Linked DNA regions of Homo sapiens: regions 2, 3 and 4 are each reported to be linked to region 1. Evidence: microRNA targets listed by miRTarBase, many of them from high-throughput screens and not tested one by one. Region 1 holds a microRNA gene; each other region holds the end of a gene's coding sequence.
Evidence for each region. The annotated mature microRNA hsa-miR-644a reads AGUGUGGCUUUCUUAGAGC and lies in region 1 at 4,391-4,409, opposite strand. An mRNA with a match to its seed (bases 2 to 7 or 8) in the 3' UTR can be bound and repressed. Matches are read on the target gene's strand: a 7mer-m8 pairs with bases 2 to 8, a 7mer-A1 pairs with bases 2 to 7 and ends in A, and an 8mer does both.

Region 1 (7,123 bases):
GGGCAACATAAGGGGACCCTGTCTCTACTAAAAATTAGCCAGGTGTGGTGAAGTGCATCTGTAGTGTCAGCTAGCGAGAAGGCTGAGGCAAGAGGATCACTTGAGCCCAGGAGGTCAAGGCTGCAGTAAGCCATGATGGCACCACTGCACTCCAGCCTGGGTGACAGAGTGAGATCCTGTCTCAGAAAAAATAACACATAAAAATAAAGTAGCTGGTTAAAATTATATCAGAAAATGCTTTTACTTACATTTGAAGATTCCTGCAATCTGAAAGTAATGGCTACTGAGGAAAAAGTGACAATGTTTGCTTATTCAGATGGTTTCAAGTTTAATTTTCTTCTTTAAAAAAAAGAAATATATATATATATATATTTACAGAGGTAAGGCCTCAATATGTTGCCCAGACTGGTCCTGAACTCCTGAGCTCAAGTGATCTGCCCACCTCGGCCTCCCCAAGTGCTGGGATTACATGAGGTTTAATTTTCTGAATAACCAAAGTCACAAATGATCTAATTGATAAATCTATTTATTTGCTCTAAAAATAGATGAAAGAGATTCTAATGCTTCCCATTTTACCTGTTTTTCTGTGAGTTAAGTATTTTCACAATCACTGTGTAATATAAAGCAACACAACAAAGTTAAGGCAGTACAGAGATACAGTTCCAATACTAACCTGACACCAGAACCGGAAATACTGAACCTTTGCTTTGAAGTCCCGAACATAGGCTATCTGAGGTCCATTGTCTCTGAGGAAGAACAAGGGTTAACAGGACATATATAGCTGCTTGTAAAAGATAATGCTGAAGGAAAGCAAAATATCCCACCCTCTCTCAGCACTTACTAACCAAATTCAAAAATATAGCATATTCCTAACAAAACCATTCTTTGCTTTTTGAGAGATATTTCCCCAAGAATACTTTTAAGTAACAGAAAAAACAAACAAAAAACTTTGATTTTGTTGAAACTACTGTTGTGGGATTTTCTTTTCTATGCTGCCAAATCTAAGAGGGCTAAGTAAAGGGGTTTCTATCTGAGAATGCTGTCTATCCCAACATCAATTCCCTCCTTTATCTTTAAGTAAAACCCTTGCTATTTAACTAAGTAGAATGCTACATATAATAAAGACTACATTTCTCTATATGGCCATGTGACTTAAGTCTCTAAGTGAAAGTGGCATATGAAACGTTCAAGAAGGATCTTTTTGGCCAGGTGCAGTGGTTCACACCTATAAATCCCAGCACTTTGGGAGGCTGAGGCGGGTGGATCATCTGAGGTCAGGAGTTTGAGACCAGCCTGACCAACATGTTGAAACTCTGTCTCTACTAAAAATTATAAAAATTAGCCGGGTGTGGTGGCAGGTGCCTCTAATCCCATCTACTTGGGAGGCTGAGGCAGGAGAATCACTTGAACCTCAGAGGTCAAGGCTGCAGTGAGCTGAGATTGCACCACTGCACTCCAGCAAGGGTGACAAAGCTAGACTCCGTCTAAAAAAAAAAAGGAAGGATTTTCTAAAAGACAGCTAAAATAGCTAAAAAGTGTGTGAGTGTGTGTGTGTGTGTGTGTGTGTGTGTTTATAATTTGCCCTTCCTCCAAATTCCAGCCTGGAGTGTGACCCTGATAGCTTAAGTTTCAGCAGCTGTCACAGACCATGAGGTCACTTTGAAGAATGAGACCATACTCTAGGATGGTAGAAAAGACAGAAGAATTTTAGATCACTATGACACCATGGGGTTTCTCAGCTAGCCTTGGACTTAATACCACTGCATTATCTCCCTCTTAAAAATTCAATGTATATCAGTGTAGAAATACAACTGATTTTGTACATTGACTTTATATTCTGTTACGCTGTTAAATTCACTTACTAGTTCTAGTAATTTTTTCTAGATTCTTCATGATTTTCTGTATACAAACGTTATTTGTGTGAGGGGAAAAGAGACAGTTTTACTTCTTCCTTTCCAATTTATACATCTTATATTTCTTTTCTTTTCTTTCTTTTTTTTTTTGAGATGGAGTCTTGCTCTGTCTCCCAGGCTGGAGTGCAGTGGCGCAATCTCTGCTCACTGTAACCTCTGACCCAGAGGTTCAAGCGATTCTCCTGCCTCCGCCTCCTGAGTAGCTGGGATTACAGGTGCCCACCACCATGACTGACTAATTTTTGTATTTTTAGTAGAGACGGGGTTTAGCCATGTTGGCCAGGCTGGTCTCAAACTCCTGGCCTCAAGTGATCTGCCTGCCTGGGCCTCCCAAAGTGCTGGGATTACAGGCGTGAGCCACCATGCCCGGCCTGTATTTCTTTTTCTCATCTCACTGCACTGGGTAGGAATACTGACACAATGTTGAATGAAGTAATGACAGTAGATATCCTTGTCTTACTCTTGATGTTCTACGGTATTTCATCATTAATTGTGATGTTGGCTGTAAGCTTTTGTTACATTTTTTTTTTCCAATAAAAATGTTTCCGGCAGGGCGCAGCAGCTCACGCCTGTAATCCCAGCACTTTGGGAGGCCAAGGCAGGTGGATCATGAGGTCAGGAGATTGAGAACATCCTGGCTAACACAGTGAAACCCCGTCTCTACTAAAAATACAAAAAATTAGCCAGGTGTGGTGGCGGGCGTCTGTAGTCCCAGCTACTCAGGAGGCTAAGGCAAGAGAATGGCGTGAACCCGGGAGGCAGAGCTTGCAGTGAGCTGAGATTGTGCCACTGCACTCCAGCCTGGGCGACAAAGTGAGACTCCGTCTCAAAAAAAAAAAAAAAAAAGTTTCCAAGGTAGCTGAGAGTTTCTCATAAATTTGCATTGTATTATGTCACAAGCTTTTCCTGAAATTATCGTATGATTTTTCTCCTTTAACCAATTTTGTTTGTTTTGACATGGAATGTCACTCTGTCACCCAGGGTGGAATGCAGTGGCCTGAAACCTCATCTCTACTAAAAATACAAAATTAGCCAGGCATGGTGGCGCATGCCTATAATCCCAGCTAATCAGGAGGCTGAGGCAGGAGAATTGCTTGAACCAGGGAGGCCGAGGTTGCGGTGAGCCGAGATTGGGCTATTGCACTCCAGCCTGGGCAACAAGAGTGAAACTCCGTCTCAAAAAAAAAAAAAAAAAAAAAAAATGAAAAAGAAAACATTTCCATCACTTGTATTTTATGAATGAATTTGAATAGGACTGATTAATTTATAACTTATAAGTTTGATGAACCTTACCAGTGACACCATCTAGGCCAGAATTTTCTTCATGAGAAATCTTTTTTTTCTTTTTTTTTTTTTTTGAGACAGGGTCACACTCTGCCACCCAGGCTCAAGTACAGTGGCGCGATCTCGGTTCACCACAGCTTCCTGGGCTCAAGCAATCTTCCCATCTCACCCTCCTAAGTAACTGGGACTACAGGCATGCACCACCACACCCAGCTAATATTTTGTATTTTTTGTAGACATGGGTTTCACCATGTTGCCTAGGCTGGTCTTGAACTCTTGAGCTCAAGTGATCTGCCCACCTTGGCCTCCCAAAGTGCTGAGATTACTGGCATGAGCCACTGGGCCTGCCCTTAAAAATTATTTAATTATGCATTTGATTTATCAGCTATAGGGATATTTAGACTTACTATCTGTTCTTGTGTCCATTTTGGTGACATATCTTTCAAAGAATTTGTCCATTTGATCTAAAATGTTAAAGTTATTGGCATAAATATACCCTTTATTATCCTTTTAATGTCTATAAAATATACAGTGATGTCCCTCTTTTTTTCTCTATAGGTTTAATTACTAAGGGTTGTTAATATTATTAATGTTTACCAAAAATTTATCTTCTAGCTTTGGGCGCTCCATTGTTTCTTTTCCACTTCACTGAGTTCTGCTTTTATTTATTTCCTTTCTTGTACTTACTTTAGGTTTAATAACTTGCCTTTTTCTAGCATCTGAATGTAAAAGCAGAGATCACTGATTTTATCTTTCCTATATTCTCATCTACTTCTTTAAAACAAAAGTTTCCCGCTGAAGACTACTTTAGTTAAATCCCACAAATTGTGATATGTGGTGTTTTAATTATTATTCAAAATAAAATATTTCCTGATTTTTCTTGTAACTTCTTTTTTGAGCAATGGTAATGATGTGGTGTAAGTCCTGCTGGACTATTTTTAAATAATGGGGACAAATACACTTCTATCTTACATAAACCACTATTATTTTAGTGTTTTCTATTATATGCACCCAAACTTATTGTAACTAAAATGAATGATAGAATAATATTATCGGTAATTTATTCCCATATCTAAATTACCTCTGTAATTTCATTAATACCAAATTGGCCTGATTTTCCAGTTTCTGCTTTAAATATAAAAGTTGTTAATGTGTAGAAGTATAAAATTAGAAAGTAATAGGGAACCATCTTTGCTCTAAGAAAGCCACACTATAAGAAAACTACAGAGCAACATTCCTTATGAACACTGATGGAAAAATACTAAAAAAAAATCAGCAAAAAAATCTCAGCAGCATATTAAAAGCACACTTTAATCCTTTTGACTAAGTAGGATTTATTCCTGGAATGCAAAAAAGGTTCAACCTATGAAAAATCAACATAATATACCACATTAACAGAATGAGGGGGGGAAAAAATCACATGATCATCTCAATTGATACCAAAAAAGGATTTTACAAAATTTAATACACTTTCATGATAAAACACTCCACAACAGGGATAGGAAACACTAGGAATAGAGGGAAACTACCTCAATATAATAAAAGGCACATATAAAAATCTAACAGCAAACATCACATTCAATGGTTAGAAGTTTTTTCTTTAAGATGAGGAACAATATAAGAATGCCTATTTTCACCACTTGTAGTCAACATAGTATCCAGAAGCTCTAGCCAGAGGAATTAAGCAAGAAAAATAAATAAATAAATAAAAGATACCCAAATTGGGAAGAAGAAAACTTATCTGTTTTCAGAAGCTAAGATCTTTTACGAAGAAAACACTAAATATTCCACAACGAAAAACCCTGCCAGAGTAAGTGAATTCAGGAAAGTAGCAGCATACAAAGTCAACACAAAATAGTTCCATTTCTATATACTAAGAATAAACAATATAAAAAGAAAATTAAGATAACAATTCCATTTACAATAGCATCACAAAGAATAAAAAATACTTAGGAATTAATCAAGAAGGCAAAAGACTCGTACACTGAAAACCACAAAACACTGCTGAAAGAAATCAAAGAAAACACAAAGATATCCACATTCATGGATTGGAAGACTTAATATTGTTAAGATGACCACACTACCCCAGATTGATACAGATATTGAATCTGTATTGATCAATATGGATTTTATTGATTCTGTACATTCAATAAAATCCCCTATCAAAATCCAAATGACTTCTTTTTTTCAGAAATAAAAAAATCCATCCTAAAATTCATATGGAATCTCAAAGGACCCTGAATAGTCAAAAGCAGCTTGAAAAAAAGAACAAAGTTGGAGGACACATACCTTCCTGATTTGAAAACTTGCTACAAAGCTATAGCGTGGTATTGGCAAATCAGACATACAGACCAACAGAATAAACAGCCCAGAAATAATCCCTTGCATATATGGTAAAATGCTATTGACAATGGTGCCACAGTCATGCAATGGGGAAAGGACAGTCTTTTCAACAAATGGTGCTTGGGAAAATTGGACATTCACATTCAAAAAGATGAAGTTGGACCCTTACCCAACACCATATACAAAATTTAACTTAAAATGGATAAAAGATCTAAATGTAAGAGCTAAAATTAAAGAACTCTCAGGCCAGGCGCGGTGGCTCATGCCTGTAATCCCTACTCTTTGGGAGGCTGAGGGGGTGTGGATCACGAGGTCAGGAGTTTGAGACCAGCCTGACCAACATGGTGAAACCCCGTCTCTACTAAAAATACGAAAATTAGCCAGGCGTGTTGGTGCGTAGCTAAAACCCCAGCTACTCAGGAGGCTGAGGCAAAAGAATCGCTTCAACCCAGGCGGTAGAGGTTGCAGTGAGCTGAGATCTTGCCACTGCACTCCAGCCTGGGCGACAGAGTGAGACTCTATCTACAAAAAAAAAAAGAACTTAGGGCAAAGCTTTATGACACTGGATTTGGAAATGATTTCTTGGATATGACACCAAAGGTACAGGTGACAAAGAAAAAACTGACAGGCTGGGCGCGGAGCTTCACATCTGTAATCCCAACACTTCAGGAGGCTGAGGCGGGCGGATCACCTGAGGTCGGGAGTTCGAGATCAGCCTGACCAACAAGGAGAAACCCTGTCTTCTACTAAAAATACAAAATTAGCTCAGCGTGGTGGTGCATGCCTATAATCCCAGCGACTCGGGAGGCTGAAGCAGGAGAATAGCTTGAACCCAGGAGGCAGAAGTTGTGGTGAGCCGAGATCGCACCATTGCACTCCTGGGCAAAAAGAGTGGGCAAAAAGAGTGAAGCTCCGTCTCAAAAAAAAAAAAGAAAGAAAGAAAGAAAAAAAAAAAAAGAAAAAACAGGCCGGGCACGGTGGCTCACGCCTGTAATCCCAGCACTTTGGGAGACTGAGGTGGGTGGATCACGAGGTCAGGAGATCAAGACCATCCTGGCTAATGTGGTGAAACCCCGTCTCTATTAAACAAAATACAAAAAAAAAAAAAAAAATTAGCTGGGCATGGTGGCGGGCGCCTGTAGGCCCAGCTACTTCGGAGGCTGAGGCAGGAGAATGGCGTGAACCCGGGAGGCATAGCTTGCAGTGAGCCGAGATTGTGCCACTGCACTCCAGCCTGGGTGACAGAGAGAGAGACTGTCTCAAAAAAGAAAAGAAAAGAAAAAATTGACAAATCAGACATCAAAATCTAAAATGTTTTATACATCAAAGGGCACTATCTACAGTAAAAAGGAAACCACAGAATGGGAGAAAATAATTGCAAATCATGTATTTGATAAGGGATTAACACCCAGAATATATAGAGAACACCTAAAACTCAATCGCAAAAGAAAAAAAAAACAACAACAAATGGGCAAAGGACTTGAAGAGACATTTTTCCAAAGAAGATACACAAATAGCCAAGAAGCATATGAAAAGATACTCAACATCACAAACCATTAGAAAAATACAAAGAAAAACCACAA
Region 2 (7,123 bases), not on the chromosome of region 1:
AGAAGCTTACCCATACATCTATTCATCCATAGTAGAAATGTAATAATGTAATGCCACCTAGAATGGTTTTTTATTTTATTTATTTATTTATTTATTTATTTATTTATTCTTTTGAGACAATGTCTTGTTCTGTTACCCAAGCTGGACTGCAGTGGTGCAATCATGGCTCACTGCAGCCTCAACCTATCAGGCTCAAGCAATCTTCCTACGTTGGCCTCCTGAGTAGCTGAGACTATAAGTGTGTGCCACCACACCCAGCTAATTTTTAAAGTTTTTTGTAGAGAAGGGGGTCTCACTATGTTGCCAGGGCTCGTCTTGAACTTCTGGGCTCAAGCGATCCTCCCACGTTGGCCCTCCAAAGTGTTGGGATTACAGGCATGAATCACCCTGCCTGGCCTAGAATAGTTTTTTGATAATTCATGAAGACTTCATGTTGGTTTAGACACAGAAGGATGATTCCTAAGTCAAGCGTGCTTCTAGTTTTCTTACCTTCTAGCTTTTTAGAGAGGGATAAGATAGAAGATACAAGAGGAAATAGATGCTTGTAGAGAAAATGATGAGTTCAGTTTATGCATATTAAGTTTGTCTTTCTCGTCAGATATCTTTAAAGAAAGTTTCAATTGGCAGTTGTATATACATATCTTGAGCTAAAGGAAAAGGCCCAGGCCAGAAGTATAAATTTAAAAATCATTAGCACAATGGATGGTAGTTAAAAATTATGAAAATATATTCATTTCCTAGGAAGCATGTAGAGTAAAATGAGAAATTAATTTTGTGAACACAGCCCATTGTCATTACCTTTCTATATTTGTGTTGAATTCTGAAAAGTAAAAGGTTAAAAATGCTATATTAAATTTTTACATTTCATTTACATCACAATTATAACAAGAATTGTTTTGTCAATCAGCAGTATTATTTGAACTTGGATTGTTTGTGTAAATTTAAGCAATAGTTTTTTTTTTTTGTTTTTGTTTTATGTAGCTACAAGTGGACCTTCTAGTGCAGTTGTTCCTAATACCTCATCTCGGAAAAAGAATATAACTAGCAAAACAGAAACGCATGAACACAAAAAAAACACTGGGAAAAAGAAATGAAATCTTAGCAGAAGCTGGAACTTTTTATACTTATAAAAATAGTATGTTCTTATGTTTCTCCTTATGCATTTATGTGTTCACTTAAAAATGTTTTTAAATCTAAGGTTTTCTTTGTTTATGTTCAGGTAAGGAACTGTTGTCATGATCTGGAAATGTTTAAAACAATGTTTGTTAGCATTCTGTGAGCAGCAAAACTTATAGTGATAAAAATCGATTGTTGTTAATATGATGTTTACCATGTGCACATAGTAATGAAAAGGAACATAAAAGCCCAGCAGGCTCGTACCAAAGTCACAGCAGTAATGCTATGTACTGCAGAGTCTGATGAGCTGGCCTTTGTGCACACTTTTATTTTCATGGGATTGCATCTTAGCTGTTAAAACTTCTAGATTGAAATTTGACAGCCAGGGTTACATATTGGGGACTTTTAAAGTGTCTTTCCAAAGAGATTTCATTAACCGTTTAGATTAGAATATCTTTCCCAATTGTTACAGTGACATATATGCTGCAATATTTAACAACTGGAGTATTAGCCACATGGGTTATTTTTTCAATCTGTGTTTTGAATTTTTTTATTGTGTGTTATTTAAAATATTACATATGCAGCTGGGAGAACTACACCTTTGTGCACATAGATTTATATATTAATTTGTAGAAAATATTTTCTTTATATATTTCCTTACCATACAAGGTGCCTTGTTCATCAGGAAAACTTTTGTTTTGTATTTTGACAAGAAAGGCACCTTCAGAGTTTCTTTTTAAGTATAGTTGACAAGTGTATAAATGTTACACTTACTTTCAGAGTTCTTTTTAGATCTAAAGAAGTCAGTTCAAAAATGGAAATCAACAATGTTAGGAGAAATCTGAATTCTGTTAAGTTAGTAAGTATTATGTATAGCATCTGTTTTTAACCATTTCCATTCTTATCCCTAGTGTATCAGTTGATCACACTAAGAAAGCTTAAAGATTGAGCATTTGAAATAAATGCTCTTTATAAATGATTAGATTTTTGAAGGGATATTGAAATCATTGCGCTGTGATTTCATCTGTGATGTGAAAAATCAATTTATTATCCTTGGTGCTTTCCCCCCCACCAATGCACAAATAATTGTGAACAGCTTGAAATGACTTAAACTGTAATCCAAATGGGACAATCTGATAAGAATTTCATGCATTGGTAGTTAAATAACTTAAATTGCTAAAGCTTTAGCTTGAAATTTATGTTTAGAAAAACTATTGATTTCCCATGGTATGAATATAACTATTGTAATTCTTCAAATGAGACTCTTCTCACCTTAAATAGTCATATATTAATTAACTTATAGGAAATAAGCATACTATATGTTAGCTGTTTTAAAAGGTACCAGATGTAAGAGTCATAAATATATGCAATTAAAGAAGTTCATAGATTTCACATGAATGTAAATGTGTTATATGGAGACATGTCTTGTAAACAGTTGAATGTATGTAAGTTTTCTGTTTGTGAAAATGTAGTTAATGTACTCACTGTGGAGGTCATAAGGAAGCTACTTTTTTTTTAAAGTGGAACCTAATTAAAATATTTCCAGAATCAAAGAGACTTAAATGGTAAATTTTTAAAATTTTCTTATCTCTTACTTTTTAGTTTTCAAAGTAGAAAAAATCAGGAATTTTTTTATTAACTAGTACTTACATATTAAATAAAATTTATTATTGGCTATATACATAGCAATATATTACTTTCCAAACTAGAAAGTACAGTACAACTAACTTTTTCCATTGTTATGCAAGAACTATTACTTTCCTGTAGTCACCAAACTCAGTAGTATTGCTCTGTAGACTAGACACTCTATTTGTAAAAATCTTAGAATCACTTTCCAAAACAAATAAAAAGTCTACTGTATCAGAGCAAAATGTTATAGTTATCACTGTTTAGTGGCAGTTTGACTGAAGCATCTGTTTCTCACTTGATTCTGTCCTGAGAAGATGTGGGATTTTTTGGTTTTAAATACTAGAAGATATTTCTTCTTAGAGCCCAGTCCTCCATCCCAAAGAGGTGAACTAGCCCAGCATGAAGAATTGTCTAGTCACCCTGAGATATTAATCTTCATAATGTATTATTCAGTTCCTTCACCCTTAAAAGCCATATAATAGGCTCAGACCTAACTTAGCCCTTGAAGTCTAGTGCTGGCAGATTCTGCTGCCCTGGTTTAAATGAGTTACGTAGTCCATTCTCAAATACTAGCAAATTTGGGGGGCGTGGTACAGCAATTTTGGGTGAAGAAAAGTGTGCTGAACACCTTATGTCAGTGATAGACAAGATATAGAGGCTGAAGGGAATACAGTAAAGTAACAAAAACATGTGGCAGTGTGCTTAGCATAAACATAGAGCACAAAGGCAATAGATGGAAATTATGAGAGAAAAGTTAAAGTTCTTCAAGAAATATCCAATTAAAACTCACTAGCCAAGGAAAAAGTTTCTGTTTTCACCCGGATTTCTTTTTGGGTTGACTCTGTCTGACCTAAATGTCCACTGTTAACTAGTGCCATGCCAGTTTGAACCAAGATTTCACATTTTTGTTTTGTATTCATACTTTGGTAGAAATTTCTCAGTCTTTGTGTATTTATAAGAATTTGCTTTACACATAGTGTACAGTGTTTATTAACTTTACATCATTTTATCCTTGCCTTACTATCTGGACAGTGTAGACTGCCTATATTCTTAGTTGGGGTTGGGATCTCTTCTCTTAGAGTGGCCCAGCAGTTTTAGCCCCTCTCTAATTCTCTTTTCCTGTGTTGGGAGATATCAAAACAACAGAATTCTTGCCAGTGGGAACATTTTTCTTTTTTAGACAAGGTCTCATTCTGTCACCCCAGCTGGAGTGCAGTGGCACAGTCTTAATTCACTACAGCCTTGAACTCCTGGGCTCAAGAAATCTTTCTGCTTCAGCCTCCTAAATAGCTGGTACTATAGGTGCGTGCCACCACACCCAGCTCATGGGAATAATTTTTACACTCCTTCAGAAGGAGTCATTTGTGATTGGAGTCCACATAGAAACAGGTTTCCCTCTGTACATAATCGTAGGTACCAAAATATTACTGTGTAAAGTGTTGTTTATATAGGTCAATTTTTGTGGAAGATCTAATTTCTATTTTCAGAGAACAGAGCACATTAAAAAATCTATTTAGTATTGTGTACTATATAATCTATGTGAATTATAGCTCCTTAACTAAATATATTACTGAGTTTTTTTTTTAATACTGTAAGTTCTAGGGTACATGTGCACAATGTGCAGGTTTGTTACATAGGTATACATGTGCCATGTTGGTTTGCTGCACCCATGAACTCATCATTTACATTAGGTATTTCTCCTAATGCTATCCCTCCCCCAGCCCCCCACCCACTGACAGGCCCAGTGTGTGATGTTCCCCGCCCTGTGTCCAAGTACTGTTCTCATTGTTCAGTTCCCTCTTATGAGTGAGAACATGCGGTGTTTGGTTTTCTGTCCTTGTGATAGTTTGCTGAGAATGATGGTTTCCAGCTTCATCCATGTCCTTGTCATCCTTTTTTTTGGCTGCATAGTATTCCATGGTGTATATGTGCCACATTTTCTTAATCCAGTCTATCATTGATGGACATCTGGGTTGGTCCCAAGTCTTTGCTATTGTGAATAGTGCCACAATAAACATACGTGTGCATGTGTCTTTATAGTGGCATGATTTATAATCCTTTGGGTATATACCCAGTAATGGGATGGCTGGGTCAAATGGTATTTCTAGTTCTAGATCCTTGAGGAATCGCCACACTGTCTTCCACAATGGTTGAACTAATTTACACTCCCACCAAGTGTTCCTATTTCTCCACATCCTCTCCAGCATCTGTTGTTTCCTGACTTTTCAATGATCGCCATTCTAACTGGCGTGAGATGGTATCTCATTTGTAAGATGATATCTCATTGAGATTTTTATAAACTGCTTTTCTTTTGGTTCATGTGCTTTGTCATGGATTGTGAGAAAAACATCTTTTCGCTTAGGGATCACTGTCAATTTCTCCTTTTATTATCAATGGTTTTTACTTTACTTTTTATATAGTATGTGGGTATGTTTTCTGGTGCATATAAATTCATGAATGCTAGATTTTCATTATAGGTTTTACCTTATCATTATTAAAATGTCCTTTTTGTCCATTGGATACTTTTTGTTCTATAAATTGTCAGATATTAAGATTATGACCTATGCTTTATTTTGGCTTGCATTTGCCTGATATTCATCTTTTTACTTTTTGGTATTTGTGTCACTTTGTTTTAGGTTATTTAATATAGTATATATTGGGTTTTGCTTTGTGATTCAATTTTAAGATCCCTTTTACTTAATAGATTAGTGTAGTCTGTTTTATGTAATGTATCTTTGCTTTTAGATTGTGCTTGCTTTTTTTATTGCTTTAAAATTCTTTTGTCTTTCTGTAACAATACTTTCCACTGCAAGTAGGAAAATTCCAATTGAAACTGGTTTAAATCATCAGAAAATGTATTATTACACATTTCTGAAGGTCCAAAGGTGGGGTTGGCTTCAGCCACAGTTGCATTAGCCATATTGTCATCAAAAGCCCAAGTGACCTCCCTTGTCACCTCTGGCATAGTATAAACTTTATCCCAAAGTTGTTTTCTCTCGTGTTAACAATAATTGCTGTCGGTTTCAGTGAGGACTACATATTTTTTTTGTTCATGTCCAACACAATAAAAATTGAGGGAAGTTCTGTCCCAATCCTGGAATATTAATATTAAGCCATCTACTTCAGTGTGATTGAGCCAACTTCTTTGATCATCTACTCACCCCTAGATAAATAGAATACTCCAGGAGATTCCCATGACCTTACTGACCCTAGAGCAGATGATGGAGTCAGTTTTTCCGAAAAGCCTCAGCACTGTTGACATTTTGGACCATAAAATTCTACATCATAGGAAGCTGTTCCATGCATAGCAGCATGTCTAGTAGGATCTCTGTACCTAGCTGTGAAGTGTTGAGAGTCAGTTAAGGTAAGTAGCTGAAATGAAAATAACAATCACATCTTTATTCACTTACTATGATAAAATTATAAGCAAGAGACCAAAAAGGAAAGTAGGGCCAGCTCCTTGTTGTTCCATTTTTCCCCTACCATGGACTAGCACTGGACATGCGTCAATCAGACGACATGCAGTCCAGGCAGAGGAAATTGTTTCACTGCTAAGGAGCAATGAACAAAAGGTTCCTGCCATCTTATGGACCTCAAGGACTGCGGACAGGGAGCAGGGAAGGGTTAGAAGTAGAAAACAACTGAGTCAGAGTGGAGATGAGTGTCTCAGTCAAGGCCCACCAATAGCGAGGTCTCTGTGGAGGCACCTGAAAAGTGTCTCAACCAAGGCCCCCTGATAAGGAAGACTCAGCATGGAGGTACCTGGTCTAGGAATGCAGCTAGGTTTATAGACATGGCCAGCCCAGGGGGTCCTGAGCACCAGATACAACTCCCTCCAGAGACTGGCTGTGTTTAAATCTCATGTGGGAAGGGCACCTTTCCCCTACAAAGCCTGTCAGGCAAAGCCTTTGTAATTGCTTATGGTCAGGCCTGAAAGATCACACATCAGACTTTGGCCTGGAACATATCTCCTCACCCTAAATGCCAGCAGCATCGCCTCCAAACTGTGGCAGTCAAAAATGTCTCCAGACATTAGTAAATGTCTTTTGTGAGGGAAGAATTGACCCTAGTTAAGAACCACTGCCCTAAAGCACATGATTCTGTGGAAAAGAAGGATATATGACCAAAATCATCATTTTGGATAGTGAGGGCATGGATAATGGATACATAATCAGCAATGTATGCTGTATACTACACTTGCATTATGTTATTCACATTTGCTATAGTTCACTTGTTGTGCTAATGGTTTTTTCCTTCACTATGATTTTGAATTATATTTAATTTTAAAGTCTATATATATATATATATAGATCCTATCTGTTGACTCCTTGCTGTGAACAATATCCAATTAGTGTATTTTTTCCTCTACTGCACAGTT
Region 3 (7,123 bases), not on the chromosome of region 1:
CTGACCTTGGGGTCAAAAAATCTGGGCTTAAAACCCAGATTTTGCTGTGTGGCCTTATTTAAGTCACCTAGCCTCTCTGACTTCAGTTAACCAACTACAAAGCAGGAGAGCCTTGAGTTCTGTCCCTGTAGAAACAGTCTCCGAGTTTCTGAGAAACACAGGCCCCACCCCTCAGTCCTTGTCCCCAGCACTCGAATGGGATTTTCCTAAGCCAACAGCTGTTAGCCCACCAGGAGAGCGGGGGTAAGGGGATGGGGAGAGGGCAGGAAGAGTGGAAGTGGGGGTCAGAAATAGGAGGCAGCCAGCAACCTGATCCTCTCAGATTCCACTTTTGCAGAGAGAAGGAAGATTCGCCCTCTAAGACATGGGTCAGAAAAGGAATTTGGGAGGGCAGGTAGCTTCCCGGCTACAGCAGGCCAGGAATGTGCTCTGAAATTCCTTACACACCAGGCAACCCCCTCCCTGAATAGTCCTCAGCCTGCCCAGGAGAAACTAGAAACCAAGGGAATCTTTCTCTACCACTCCTGGGCACAGAGCAAGGCTTGTCCCAAGATGGGGTGTTGGGGTGGGATGGGACAAGGGTTACACTTACGGGGGCCCAGGTTAAACCCTTTAATGCCAACCAGCTGGGCTCACACCCAAGGACAGGTTCTCCCAGTGGGGCCTTTCCCCATCTGCCCCCCAAGTGCAGCTCAGCTCAGGGTCTGGGAGCTCAGCTCAGCTCTGGGAGGGAATGGCACTGAGTCAGCGGCATCAAATGGAATTCCCGCGTTGGCCTGGAGAGGCGCTGCAGAGGACCCTGCACATCTGGTCGTTCTCAGTACTTCCAGGACAGTTTCTGAGTTCCTAGCCTTGAGAATATGACCAGGAGACTCACTTGACTGACAGGGCTGCAGTCTCGCTCTGCTCCCTGGGACTCAAGAAGGACCTGACTGGAAAGGTATAGGTGACCCTCGGCCTGGAACAAGCAATTTAGGGGAGTCTCTGTTGGTTAGAGCCTCATTGTATTTAGAGCAGGCAGAGGCCTAGCAAATATTTAGCCCACTCTACAGATGAGAAAACTGAGGCCTGGGGAGGGAAAGTGACTCATCCAAGAGTTTAAACTCTACATCTTTAGTGGCAGGTCCAGGACTCCAACCCTAGTCTCCAATGGCTACCATGGGATTCTCTCTTTCTCTCTGCTCTATTGTACCAATCTTGGAGCCCAGACCTGGCAACCTGTCCTCTGAAGTGTGGCCTCCACCAGGAGGGGCCATGGACTTCTGCGGACACAGGCAGACTCTGGGTAAATATGCCAGGGCCCAAGACCCTCACATCTCCCCGTCCATTCTCTGCTCTCCTCTTCCCCAGAGCCCTGCCCGAGCCTTACCTCAGAACAGCAGCTGCCGACAGATCCTGGAGGCGTCTGCTCAGTCTCAGCGGGGACTGGGTGAGGCAGAGGATGGAGAGGGCTTTAAGCAGGCATGTGGGCTGGGGCCTGGTGAGCCAGCCCTGCGGAGGGAGGAATGTGCGACAGGGGACGGGTGGGGCAGGGGGATGGCGGTGGGGGTGGGGGGTGTTGGCTGCTATTTTGGCAGGTGCCAGGGACAAGGCTACAGGAACATGTACCCCACGCCATATAAGCCCATGTGGTCCTCCAGCTGCTCAGATAAGCTATTTAAAACCAGAGCAGATATGCAGGGAACAGTCATGCAACATAAACCAGCTGTCCCTCTTGAGAATCCTGATAAAGCAGAGGCCAGCAACCCAGGCCTGGGAGGGCCAGCTGGGAGCAGGGTTGGGGGGCAGAAGGCAACCTCCAAGACACTCCATAAGTCTCAGCACCAGAATCTTGGAAGGCAGAGGGCAAGAGTTATGTGCTGCTCCACTTGAACTGATGCTGGGGGTAAAGACATCTTCCAGGCTACTGGCTCCTAATGGACTGAGCAGCCTTAGGCAGGTTGCCGGCTCTGCCAGCCCCAGTGAGGACATCTGCAAGGTGGGTCTTCTCCATGACCCCCAAAGCCATGTGGCACACCCTCCTCACAGGGAATGGACTGAAACTGCTACAGGAGGCCAGATACAAGGTAGAACTTCCAGTCAAGAACCTTGAACAGGCGCTCGTTGTGTGAGAGGGGTGATGCGGACTGTCAAAGGTCATCCCCTAACGGCTTTAAAATCAAGCAGTGCGGGGCTATGATCTGCTAAACCTACTAGATTGCAGATGCATAGGTCAGGCCTAGGGGTCTTGCTTGCTTGCCTGTGTCTGACCATGCACATGCACTTGTATGTTCAAGGCTGGCCCATTGCAGGGTTTGGTAGATTATGAAAATGAAAGAGACAGGAGGAAAGCAAGCCAGTAAGCAGCTGAGCTGACTCTCCCCTCCATCTCTTTCTCCGAATCTTCACAGCCTAGGTCCTGCTTGGCTCTGAAGCAGGAATGGTCCTCCTCTGGAGCAGGCCCTCCCCTCCTCCATGACCCCCCCTGGCACTTAAAGATCTTGCCCATTCATGATCCACACTCCTCTGTTTCTCCGTGGGCAAAGAAAGCAATCTCGCTATTCTCTGCCCCCTTCTCCCATCACCCAATCATGTGTCCCGCCTTCCCAGTCCTCAAACTCTTCTCTCAATCCCTCTGCCTTGGGAGCTACTATGCTGCCTCCACCACTAATGTCCTTGAAAGGGTCCTCTGCGCAGGGGACTGCCATTTGCTCCACACCCATGCTGCTGTCAGACTCTTGTCCCATCACTCAGCTGACTCCATCCCCTCCATAGTTCCCTGTGGCCTCTGAGTCCAGTGGCCTTGATTGCCCTGCCACGTGGGCCTCCACACTGCCAGCACATCTGTGGCAGGGCAAGCTGAAGCCAACCGCCCGCTGGCCAGCATTGTGGGACTGAGGACCACCACAGGGAAGCAGGGGCACTTTGTAGAGAGACAGGCAGATGGAGGGGACAGATTCCCGAGGGATAGTGAGGAAGGAGTCAGGCTGTCAAGAAAGTGGGGGGAGCCCCATCATCTCTCTCTCCCATTCTAGCCCACGAAGCAGGGCCCAGCCTTGCCTTGGGTCCTGGCCTGGAGTAACGTAGAATTCGGAATTACTTTTCCCAAACCCTTTTTTAACTTGAGGGTGGGTTACTGTTCCTTGTAAGCCCAATAACCTTTCAAACAGACCACGGTTTATTTGCATGGATGCCTAGAAGAGGGATCTGGGCACCTAGGTCACTACTGAGCCCCATGGGAAAAGCCCAGTAGATCCTTGGTGTCACAGGCCACACGTGTATGGCTTCGAATTGTTCTAAGGCAGGAGCTTCGTTCAGAGCGCTGTGAGACAGCCTCTCAGATAAGGAAATCCAGCCCCCATGCAGCAGCCACTCCTGGGCATAGTAGGGTTACTCTTAGCCCATTTTTTTTTTATATCCCTGTCCTTTCAAAGGGATGTAAAGAGAAAACAAAGCCAGAGTGGAATGGGAGGCTTATGCTGAAACAGTGCATGTAAATTTGAGGATCCACAATAGGACGGGCCACTTGTGGGGCACAGGGCCCCTGTGGCAAGACAGCAGGAGGGTGCAGCCCGGAGTGGTGTGTGGGAGCCCTGTTCTGTCTCCAGAAGGTGCCCAATGTCACCCATCCAGAGGCCTCCCCACCCGCCTGGACACCCAGTCGCTACCACTCATCTATCCCCAGCTGAGGTCATCTTGGGCACACCCTGGTCTCCTTGTTTACTGGCTGCGTCCCCAGTAGGAACGAGGGCAGGGCCCTCACGTGCTGGATTCACAGGGGAGGGGGCTGTGCTGTAGCACCCCGACATTTCCCCTAGCAGTCAGCCCTCACTGGGCACCCCAGGGGAGGGGGGTGCAGGCATGAAGGGCCCTGCTGAGGCTGCAGCTGCAGGAACAGGCCCCTCAGTGTCTTCCTAGGCTCTTACTCCACGGTCAGGCCCTGCCAGGTGAAGGCCTCCAGGAGCCTCTCCTCTGTGTGGGGACAGTTTTGTTTACTGGAAAAGTTCACCTATCATGGCATGAACATATGAAAGTTCTCTGAGGTCATCTGCTTGAAGTTCAGAGAAGGAAAATGGCTCAGGGTCACACCTGAGGTCTGGGCAGAGCCAGAGCTGTTTAGATGTCCCGAGGCTTAGGCAGGACTCAATCCGTTCCTCGGCCCTGCCCCAGCCTTGTCCTCCAACTCTCGGCTATGAAGTTGGAACACTCACAAAGCCCCAGCACTAGCAGTGGGTGGGAGGTGCTCGGGGCAGGGACCCCAGGTCCCGATATCCCTCACTCAGGCACAGGAGACTCACTGACCAGAGGTGGGTCAGCCTGGGGCACTGGGACCTGAGCACGGATGGCACTTTGAGGGCCTGTCCCCTGGGGCACAGATCTGAGGAGCCCTCACCCAGAGTCACAGAGTAGGGCTAGGGCTCATCCCCCACACACTTGGGGAACTGGACTGGTGATACCCCCTTAGGAGCCGTGTTAAGGGTCGTGTTCCAAAAAGACCTGGAGCTTCCCCAGGCATGCAAAGGGGGAATGGGCAGGGGGCTCTGCACCTGGCCACATCCCCAGCTGATTCTGGGTAAAACTAGGGCAGTCAATCAAGATGGAGAGTTCTAATGATTTAAATTTTTGAAAAGTTGTAAACCACAGCTTTAAGGGGTTAACAGGGCACCAGGCTGATGTTCCTAGCTTGGTTGGTTCTAGATTCTCTGATGGTTCACCATGCTCCAAGCTCATAGGAGCCATGAGGTCCAGAGCATGGGGGTGGGGGTTGGAGGGGGCTTGTGGGGAAGGAGGGTAGGCCTGGCCCTGTATGTGGCAGTTCCCAGTCACCAAGCTAGGACTGCTGAGTGGCAAGCCACCACCTTAATGTGAGAAGAGGGGGGATGAGGAAAATGATGATCCTCCTCACACACTTCAGGTGACCTCTGCTAGAAAGCAAGGCCTCCAGAGAGGAATTCGCTTCTAAGGTCTCATCAGTCTCTTACACCTGAGAGTAAATGAGTTTATCAGATCCTTCCTGAGAACAGGTTTTTCAGAGAAAGGGTAAGTGGTTGCACACAAAAAGGCACTTAGCTCCTGGCCATGGCAGCCGGCCAGGGAAGGGAGGGGAGAACCAAGCAGGGAGACGGGGCACAGGGAAGACGCACGGCAGCTCCTTCTCCCCTGGCCAGAGCGGGCCTCAGTGGCTGGGAGCAGGCCCCAGGGACAAAGATGGGTGGGTCCAGGCCTCAGAGAAGGGGGACATCATAGACAAAGAGGCACTTGCTGGGAGCCGATGAGACAGGTGACTCTGGAGTTCTTGAGGGGCGCCGTGCCCTGACTGTGGATGTGAGCAGGAAGGAGCAGAGGTCTCTGGGCAGGACATAGGCCCCATAGTGCTGATGTGCACTTGTGCTGTGACCTGGGCAGAGACTGGGTCCCAGCATCTGTTGTGCCTGCCGCAGGGTGAGAAAGTCCCAGCCCCAAGAGGCTGGGCTGGGAAGGAGCTGGCTGAGTCTTGCAAATATTCCTGACCCCAGGGACCCTGGCCAAACAGATCCACAGGCAAAAAGGGAACAGGGACAATGAGAGGAAAGGGTGCTGCTGTGAGAGGCAGGGGCCTGGCATGAGGGAGGTCCCTTGAGACGAAGACTTGCAGGTCTGTCTTGGCGGGGCTTGTCACACCTGTGGGGCAAAGAGCTGTTAGCACAAGTCAATGGGGTGTCAGGGATGGAAGGGGAAGGGGGCCACTGGATAGGAAGGCATCCCTTTGCCCAAGCCCCACACCCACAAGGAGTCAGAGCCCTGTAATCTGCCAGCTGAAGAGGGAGGGGCTCTGCAGAGCTGCAGGCAGCACAACCAGGTGAGGGCTCAACCTTGTTCTCACGGTTGGCTCAGACCAATCTGCATGAGCAGGGATGGGGGCGTTCTGGGTGGACTGCGCGATTGCAGGCCAATTAGTGTGTGCACACGGGGACGATGGGGTCTCCCACAGTACACCGTGGCCCTCCGCCGTAGGGCCAGGCTCCTCCCCACCATTCACCTCAGCGTCCAGCGAGGAGTCAGATTTCTGTCCCCACTGAGTCCTCTCGGTTGCAGATGATGCTTTCTGTGCCTCCTGATTGAGGGTATCAGGGTGGAGACCAGAGACTAAGACCAGGCTCCAAAGGGCTCGGGATACCCCAGGCCCAGCTCCCAGCCCAGGATGTCCTTTCTCTTCCCAAAAGAGAAAAGGAACCCAGACCCACCCCTCCTCTCTGCCAGAGTCTGACCCACACACCCATCTATTCCCGACTGCCTCCACTCCTGAAATGACTCCTCCTCTCCCGAAATGACTCCTCCTCTCCCGAAATGACTCCTCCTCTCCCGACTGTCCCTCCTCTGTCCCCAGTCATCCCACCACAAAGGCTCCACAGTAAGAGACATCAGGGAGGGTGAGGATACCTGGGGGTCCTGATCTCCAGATTCCTGGGTCCTGCTGATCCACAGGTTGAGCCTTGATGTCACAACCCCTGAGAGCCTCAAGTTCTCCTAAAAAGAGAACTTTCCATCTCAGGGTTTAGGGCCCTTGGCAGCAGCGAGGCATGTTCAGAGGCCCTGGAATGGGATAGGACTCTCCCTCACTCCCCTATGCATCCAGCACATGCCACATATACCTGGGACAGCCCCCTCCCCTTCCCCCAGGGAGCTGTGTGCCCAGCTAAGGAGATGGGCTCAGGAACGTGAATGGGAACTCAAATGGAGGTTCTGCCAACATTAATTGACACATGAAAACAGTTTTCTAGCATTGCCACAGCCAAGATTTGGGTTTTGGAGACGTCAGGGCTAATCACCCTAAGGACCCTGTGGGGCCTGAGCCCCTCACCTTCCGGCTGGAGGCTGGTTCTGCTCGGCTCTGGCCCGCCAGTTCCTTCTCAAAGAGGTGGCGCTTGCTGGCTACACCCACAGGAGCCACGAATAACTCAGTGCAAGGCAGACCCCGAGACTTGACAGATTCTGATCTCTGGGAACCAAGAACACCAACAGCTGACCCATGCTGGGGAGGGGAAAGGGCCATGCCCACTACTCATCCTGCACCCTCCGCCCCTCAGGAGAAGCCCCCACCCACCCGTATGGCCGTGTGGTATCTCTCCAGCTTCTCTCCCAACTTCACTGTGTTGTCTGGGAG
Region 4 (7,123 bases), not on the chromosome of region 1:
CCATATATGAAACGGGAGGCTTTTAAAGCTTACTAGTCATAAACAACTTACCTCCCGACTCATTTCATCAGTGAAGCTTTCAATGTTGAACATTCATAAATGAATATATTGCCCACATGTGCACCACTTCCAGCCTAAATCTTCTTTGGATAAGTAACCTGTTACCATGAATATAAAGAAGAGTTTCATTTAAATTTAATTTGGTCCCTTAGAAATAAGAGACTAAATGTTCCAACTTTTAGAAAGGATTCAAATAAGATATTTTCATTTTGCTAATTTTTAGAGTTCTTGTTATACCAAAAAGAAAAGCCCCTCTGATTTCTTAGGTTAGACATGGGTAAAGGAGAAAGGTATTAATACGTGAAGCAATCCATATAATAGTATAAGAAGGGTGTTATGGTCTTGCATCATATGAGGAAATGATATGGGCTAGAAATTCTAAAAGACTCTTTTTACATATATGGTTGGAGGGATGGTAAAGTTAATAAATTTGTGGTTTGCCGTAGTCTATCTACTGCAGTCATTTTTGGGAAATAGTTACCACGAATGCAAGATATAGTTAAATCAAGGTATTTCTTCCCTCATAGGTGGCGGACGTGTGAAAATTGAGAGTGTAAAACTAGATTTCAAAGAAAAGGCCCAAGCTAAAGTTGGTTCTCTTGATAATGCTCATCATGTACCTGGAGGTGGTAATGTCAAGGTAAGAAACAAGGTTATGAGCCAATCTTGTCTTTTTAAAAAAAATTCTTCTGAAATACTCTTCATCAAAATAGGTCCCAGATTGTAGACCTGGACAAATAAGAAGTGGGGATAACAGAGGTGAATAGAAGTCATTAATGTCAGCCCTGGGAGATGGAGAAAGAGGTAGGGGCCAGTTAAGATGCATGAGTTAACGAGGACTGATGCTTGTCTTAAACAGATTGACAGCCAAAAGTTGAACTTCAGAGAGCATGCTAAAGCCCGTGTGGACCATGGGGCTGAGATCATTACACAGTCCCCAGGCAGATCCAGCGTGGCATCACCCCGACGACTCAGCAATGTCTCCTCGTCTGGAAGCATCAACCTGCTCGAATCTCCTCAGCTTGCCACTTTGGCTGAGGATGTCACTGCTGCACTCGCTAAGCAGGGCTTGTGAATATTTCTCATTTAGCATTGAAATAATAATATTTAGGCATGAGCTCTTGGCAGGAGTGGGCTCTGAGCAGTTGTTATATTCATTCTTTATAAACCATAAAATAAATAATCTCATCCCCAAACTGTAGTAATTGTTACAATTTTCTATTTAAAAAATGAATAGTACATGCAGAAATTGACCTGATTTCCATTTGCAACAGGAAGACACTGGCTTTACATGGGTTCAATTGGACAATTATTTTTGCTCTGCTCTGTTTTGCATGGAGTATTATTATTTTAAAAATTGCATTTTTACCTTTCATGTGCCTGAAGGCTATCCACTACATTCTGAAGGCCTTGTTAAAATCCAAGCTGCTCATTTCACTATTCTGTTTCTGAGTGAGAAGATAAAAACTGCCCATTGTAACTTATTTCAGGTTAAATTAAACCAAGGAGTCTGATTGCAGGAAGGGAAGAGCATGTAAGAAATAAGTTTTTTTAAAGTGTTATTTTGTATAAATGGGAAGAAAGATTCAATTAAGTTATTAACATTTGGGACCTGGATAATTATATCAGAGTATGTCAGTCCAATAAATTATTTAACTAATTAAAAAATAGTTGCAAAGCATTTGAGCTGTGGTTGAGGAAGTGGTGTAAAAGTGCATCCATTAGGAATGATGCACTTTCATTAGGATGGACTCGTGTCTGATTAGAATGTCAGTTGATCAGCTAGATTTGTGTCCACACTACCAGTTTCACACCCCCTTTCCATCTGTTTGATACAGTATTATAGATATAAATATATATATATTTCTCTGTGGCCATTTGTGATACTTCCTCATATACTTGAATATTATACTTCTTTATTCACAGTATCTGTGTCTCCTGCACCCTTTGGTGTTGCAATTTTAGATATGTGAAAGTAGATGTTAGCAGGGTTCTCTCCCTATTTAAAAAAAATACATTAAAAAAGACAAAAAATTTTAGCATGAAGTTGCTTTCTGTAACAACTCAAAGCCGTAACCCTGTTTTAGTGCCAGATACAAGTCTCTCCCGTGATGCTAGACAAAAAATTATTTTTCTTTGCTTTCACCAACATGGAGTTTGTGGGGGTGGGTCCAGTTATACATGAAAGGGTTTACAGATTGTTGGTTTAAGATTATGGATTTATCTCATTTTTAATCACAGGATAGTTTGGGGTTTATTCCTATTATTATTCATGAAACCGACTTAAGATTTTTTCTTTATTTTTCTTTTTTTTTCCATTTGCTAAAGTTGAAAGTTGAAACTAACTATAATAGTTTGAAACATGTTTTCTCATTTTTCCAAATAGTATCTGTTTATTAAATTCTCTAATAGAAGATGTTTGTCTTTCTTACCCAAAGTAAAGATCCCCTGATCAGAAAGAAAAAATACAATACTTTGGGAAGCTATAGCTATAAAACACTTGAGACACAGATATCTAAATCAGTTTTTTTCCAAGACTCCAACATTGCACTCTGTAAAGTAACACACTGTGATCTAGTATTATTTATCAGTAGATAATACTGTTCTGACTGTATATACAGTCTAGAACTCACAAATCAATTAGTTCCTCTCACAAATCATTCATCTTAGACTTACAAATAAGGAATGAAATAGTCAATGGCCTGATTAAGGCAAAGAGCTACCAGGCTAGATGGACACTTTTTAAAAATTTTATCTGTTCTTTTTCTTGCTCAGGGCTGGTAGGTTGGATCTGAACCATTAAAATCAAATGGTCCACTAGGCGTATGATCTCTTTGAGCCAAATCAGTTCCTGAATATAAAGGAGGAAATGATGAGGATGTACTGAGGCAACGGGGAAGTATAGAAACATCCAAGACAAAAGCCAAGGGATGCAAAGGCAGAGACACAGGTGCTTTTTGGTGACCCAGTGGATATGGCAACCAGTGTAACTGCCATACAAGAAACCCTAGGAGCAAACCCACACCACTCATTCTCAGCTAAGAGATTTTACACAGGCAAACGTGTCTTAAACCATCTATAAATCAGTTATTTTATATGACAGTCAAAACCTTAGAAACCTTAGGATCATTATATCTATTTTCTGCCTATTAATTGCTGTGAGGTTTGATTTGACCAATCTGGGCAATTTATTCATCAGCTTCCCTTGAAGTGCACCAGAAAATAGAAGAAAGGTGTGTGGAGACTTAGGGTATTTTATTACATGTTTTCATAGTCTTAAATAGTGATTAAATTTCTCTAGAAAGAAGTTAACAGCTCATTAGAAAAGTTTTAACCTGTGAAATAAGTATTTTTCTCAACATTCTTTAAAGTTTTTATATAAGTTAACACTAGGTAAACATTCTGCATACTAGAAGTCAGTTTATTACAAATACATGTCAAAAATAAAGATTATACAAGGCACCAAACTACTAGATTTGGCATTAAAACAAATGTTTATTTCTAATCACAACAAAATTATAATGAATAAATGTTCTTGCTTTGTATGGAAATACAATTCTTTATTAAAGTTAACAGAAAGGAACTGATCGTTTGTACCAGTAAAAGAGAGAAACACACAGGTTAAATATCTTCTTGTGGGGTTAAGGGGTAGAACCTATCTTGCCTTCACTCTCAAGATAACGACTCAAATTAAGCTTTTTGAGCACCACTCTTGTGGGGACACACATACGCTGATCTAGGAATGAAATCTTCGTGGTCTCAATTCTAGATCTACTATGCCAGTTTCTCTCTGGCTTTAGCCTTTGAGAACCTGTATAAGAATACGTAAGTAATCCAGAGCTGTGAAGAGTTTAAAGGCCAACTTCTCCAGTGAACTCAACCTCTGGGTCACTTGCAACCAGAAATTGGATACCTCATAATGATGCAGGAAAGACCCGAGTTCATGATGAGTTTCAAAGGCCACGTTCATTTAGGAACCAACTCTCTCTGGATTTACCTGCTGAGTTCCAGCAGCGTGATGGGCTGACATCCCACCTACAAGTATGACACCTGTGTAACACCAGCTAGGTACGGCTGGAGAAGGCTGAAGAGAGAATGCCATTAAATGGAAGAATGTACTGATTGTAGTGACCTTCTCCACACACACACACACACACACACACACACACACCTACAGTAATACAGCAAGCGTGGAATAATCAGCCAATATATAACATTCCATCAGTATTTTATTAAGGAAATAACCTGAATGTGGTTGATTTTGACATAGCTGCAATTACAGTTTTCTTCTATTTTTCAAGCCACAATAAGGAAAATAAACTACTCATGGTCTAAATACTAGAGATAAAGTAGATTCATGGCTTGGTAAGGAAATTTTAAGCATTCCTTCAAAGATTGACGTGCTAAAATAAGCATTGATGTTTTGAGTTTTTTTACACCTAGGATTTTTAGCTTGGGTGTGTAGGTGAAGGCCAAGACTCTCTGCAGGAAAAAGCTTATTTTCAAACTCAGAAAATAAAATGTCAATCATAAAAATCTACTTCAACTTTAGCAAAAAGAAAAAAAAATCAACAAAAAGTATACTCTGTATGCTGGGATTCCGAGGTTCCAACACACTGTTACAAATCTGTGGGGGGTTTCTTTCTTCTGATAATTCTAGAGCCTGTTACCATAGAAAGGCATTTCTTCAATGGCTGGTTGTAGTTAGTTCATGTTTTTCAATCAAATTTGCAAATGTATTTGTTGCTGTATAGTGATTGTTTTGCAAAATAAAATTGCTTGTCACCTAACTGCTAGTTTTGGTTTCAGACTGTTTAATTGCTTCTCCTCTGGAAAAAAAATTTTATATATATATATAGTGATATAGTGCGTGTGTGTGTGCATGTGTGTAATACAACCAAAGAAAAATTGTGAAAACAAGGCTATTATTATGGCTGAGTTTCTATTATGTGTCAGGCTCTATACTAAATGATTTTATATTAGCTCAATTAATAAGGAAATTTATTTTTATCACTACTGTATTAGCAGGATGCTATCTTTTGCAAGTGACAAAAATTCTAATTAAACGGGCTTAAACGTAAAGGTGAATTTGTAGGCTCAAGTAACTGACTACTCAGGTGTATCTGCCTCAGGCATGGCTGGGTCCAGGCCCTCAAACGACGTCATCAGGAATCTTCCCTTTTCCAACTTTTAGTTTTGCATCCTCTGTGTTGGCTTCCTTCTCAGGCAGGCACCCCTTCCGTGATGGGCACCAGAAGCTCCAGATTTCACAACCTATCAAAGAAAGCCCCTTTACAGTAGCTCAAATCCAGGGTCTGAAAATCACTGAACGATTAATACTTGGATCTCCTGCCTACTTATGCTAATTGACCAGGATTGGCTCACGTACCCAACTCTGTCACAGGTGGTTGGAGTAGAAGGAGAATAAGGGGAGAAGTGGCTTTATTCTCCTCCATACTACCTGAGCTAATCGTGGAGAGGAAACGTTTCCCCCAAAGTTAATTCAGGCTACTCCTGCCAGAAGAGAGGAATTGATACTGTACAGGCCACAAAAACAAATACGTGGTATAGCTGCACCCCTGTTCATCTTTTAGCTCCTTACAGCTCAGATTATGCTCAGGCTTCACCAGGGAGCTTGATAGAAATACAAATTTCTGGACTCCACCCCAGACTAACTAACTAACATTCCTCCAGGTGATTCATCTGCACTCAAAAATTTGAGAAACACTAAGCTCATTCAGTCCCTGCTAATGTGTTTAAGGAGAAAGAGCTCCGTTGCAGGTCTCTAATGGATAAAAGTTATCCCAAAGACTATTTGAGACAGCATCCCTACCTCTGATGTCAAACTAGGAACCAAGGCATAGAAAGCTGTGACTGGTAAAAGAAATACTTATGTGTGTATTAGAGGTTTTCCAGCCCTCAGACTATTTTAACTTGGCTAAAACCTACTTCTCTTATTAATGGCATCACTTCTCATTCAGTCTCCTTTTGCTAATAATGCAGATTTTGTAGAACCTAGCAAGAATTATTAGTGTATCTCTAATAATTCCTTAAAATCAGCACACATGTTGTCCTTCAGAGTCTTCAAACCATGAGGATTAAATTTGTCCAGTAGCATGAATCACCATAAAATTGTTGATTTTCTTTTTTATTTGTTAACAAGGCAAGGAAAGGTTTATTTGCCTTGACAAGAGACAACCGTAAATAATGGAGGATGACAGGATAACATTCAGTGTAACTTACAGAAAGATAAATGTTCCTCTTCTTGTTTATGATGTGGCACTTCCTTGTAGACCTGAGACTTCAAGAATTTAGGGCTAGAAAATTGTCAAAAGTATACAGTCTAGCAACCTAAAATTGTTTCAAAATATTAAGCCCTTCACTCGACTTTCTTGAGCATGATAAAGCAGCATCATGGACACACTCTTTAAAGCCCTTTTTCCACCTCTCATGCCTTTCCCTCACAAATATGCCTCAGCTGTTTCCACTTCTACTCCCTTAAATTCCAAGACAATCTCTGTCCCAGGCCTCAGTTGAGGTAATAAACCTGTGGCCTCCAGATAGGCTTTATTTGGCCTGCAAACTGTTTTCAAATTTCAGAAACTTCACATGCACACACACACATCCCAGATTTGGATCTTCGCTCTTGGTGACCATTGACCAGAGCTGTCCATGGGTACCTCTGAGATGGGGTTTATTCCCTTGACTTGGCCACCATGCCCAGCTAGGCTTATTATTTTCTCCCACCCCTCTGCTTTCACTCATTACGATAAGCATTAAACTACAGATTTAGAGTTTGTAACCCTTGACCTAGGCACACTTGTCTTTCTCGCCAATATTTTCCTCATCCTATAAAACAAAAGTCCAAAATCCTAGAGCCCCTAATCCTAGAGCCAGGGAGTTAGGGAGGTTAGATTAGAATCCTCAGGGTGACAGAGAACTGGGAACACCAATATTTATAGCTTTTGTCCTGTCTCAAAAAAAAAAAAAAGCAGGGGGAAAAAGACCTTTAAGAAGCACATTTATTTCATAGCAGCAACTGTTAATGTCCATGATAAACATA

Region 2: miRTarBase lists PPIP5K2 as a target of hsa-miR-644a. Seed matches in the 3' UTR shown: 7mer-m8 at 4,874-4,880.
Region 3: the mRNA of LAD1 is a reported target of hsa-miR-644a. The part of its 3' UTR that is shown has no 7-base or 8-base seed match.
Region 4: miRTarBase lists MAP2 as a target of hsa-miR-644a. Seed matches in the 3' UTR shown: 7mer-A1 at 4,198-4,204.

The regions. Positions count from the first base shown.
Region 1 is chr20:34,463,671-34,470,793 of GRCh38, reverse strand. It overlaps MIR644A (microRNA 644a), which reads right to left and starts at 4,469; the gene lies at 4,376-4,469. It overlaps ITCH (itchy E3 ubiquitin protein ligase), which reads right to left. Exons shown (of 25, transcript NM_031483.7): 15 at 674-746.
Region 2 is chr5:103,200,541-103,207,663 of GRCh38, forward strand. PPIP5K2 (diphosphoinositol pentakisphosphate kinase 2) reads left to right here. Exons shown (of 31, transcript NM_001276277.3): 31 at 982-7,123. The coding sequence ends at 1,094. Among named protein-coding and RNA genes, the nearest start is that of MACIR, 55 kb to the right of the region's middle.
Region 3 is chr1:201,376,254-201,383,376 of GRCh38, forward strand. It overlaps LAD1 (ladinin 1), which reads right to left. Exons shown (of 10, transcript NM_005558.4): 6 at 7,064-7,123; 7 at 6,821-6,958; 8 at 6,400-6,486; 9 at 5,999-6,073; 10 at 4,580-5,640. The coding sequence ends at 5,635. It overlaps TNNT2 (troponin T2, cardiac type), which reads right to left and starts at 1,427. Exons shown (of 17, transcript NM_001276345.2): 1 at 1,370-1,427. RefSeq lists enhancers at 1-453, 858-1,395, 1,396-1,933, 3,270-4,033.
Region 4 is chr2:209,729,263-209,736,385 of GRCh38, forward strand. MAP2 (microtubule associated protein 2) reads left to right here. Exons shown (of 16, transcript NM_001375505.1): 15 at 588-700; 16 at 920-4,850. The coding sequence ends at 1,135. Among named protein-coding and RNA genes, the nearest start is that of UNC80, 39 kb to the right of the region's middle.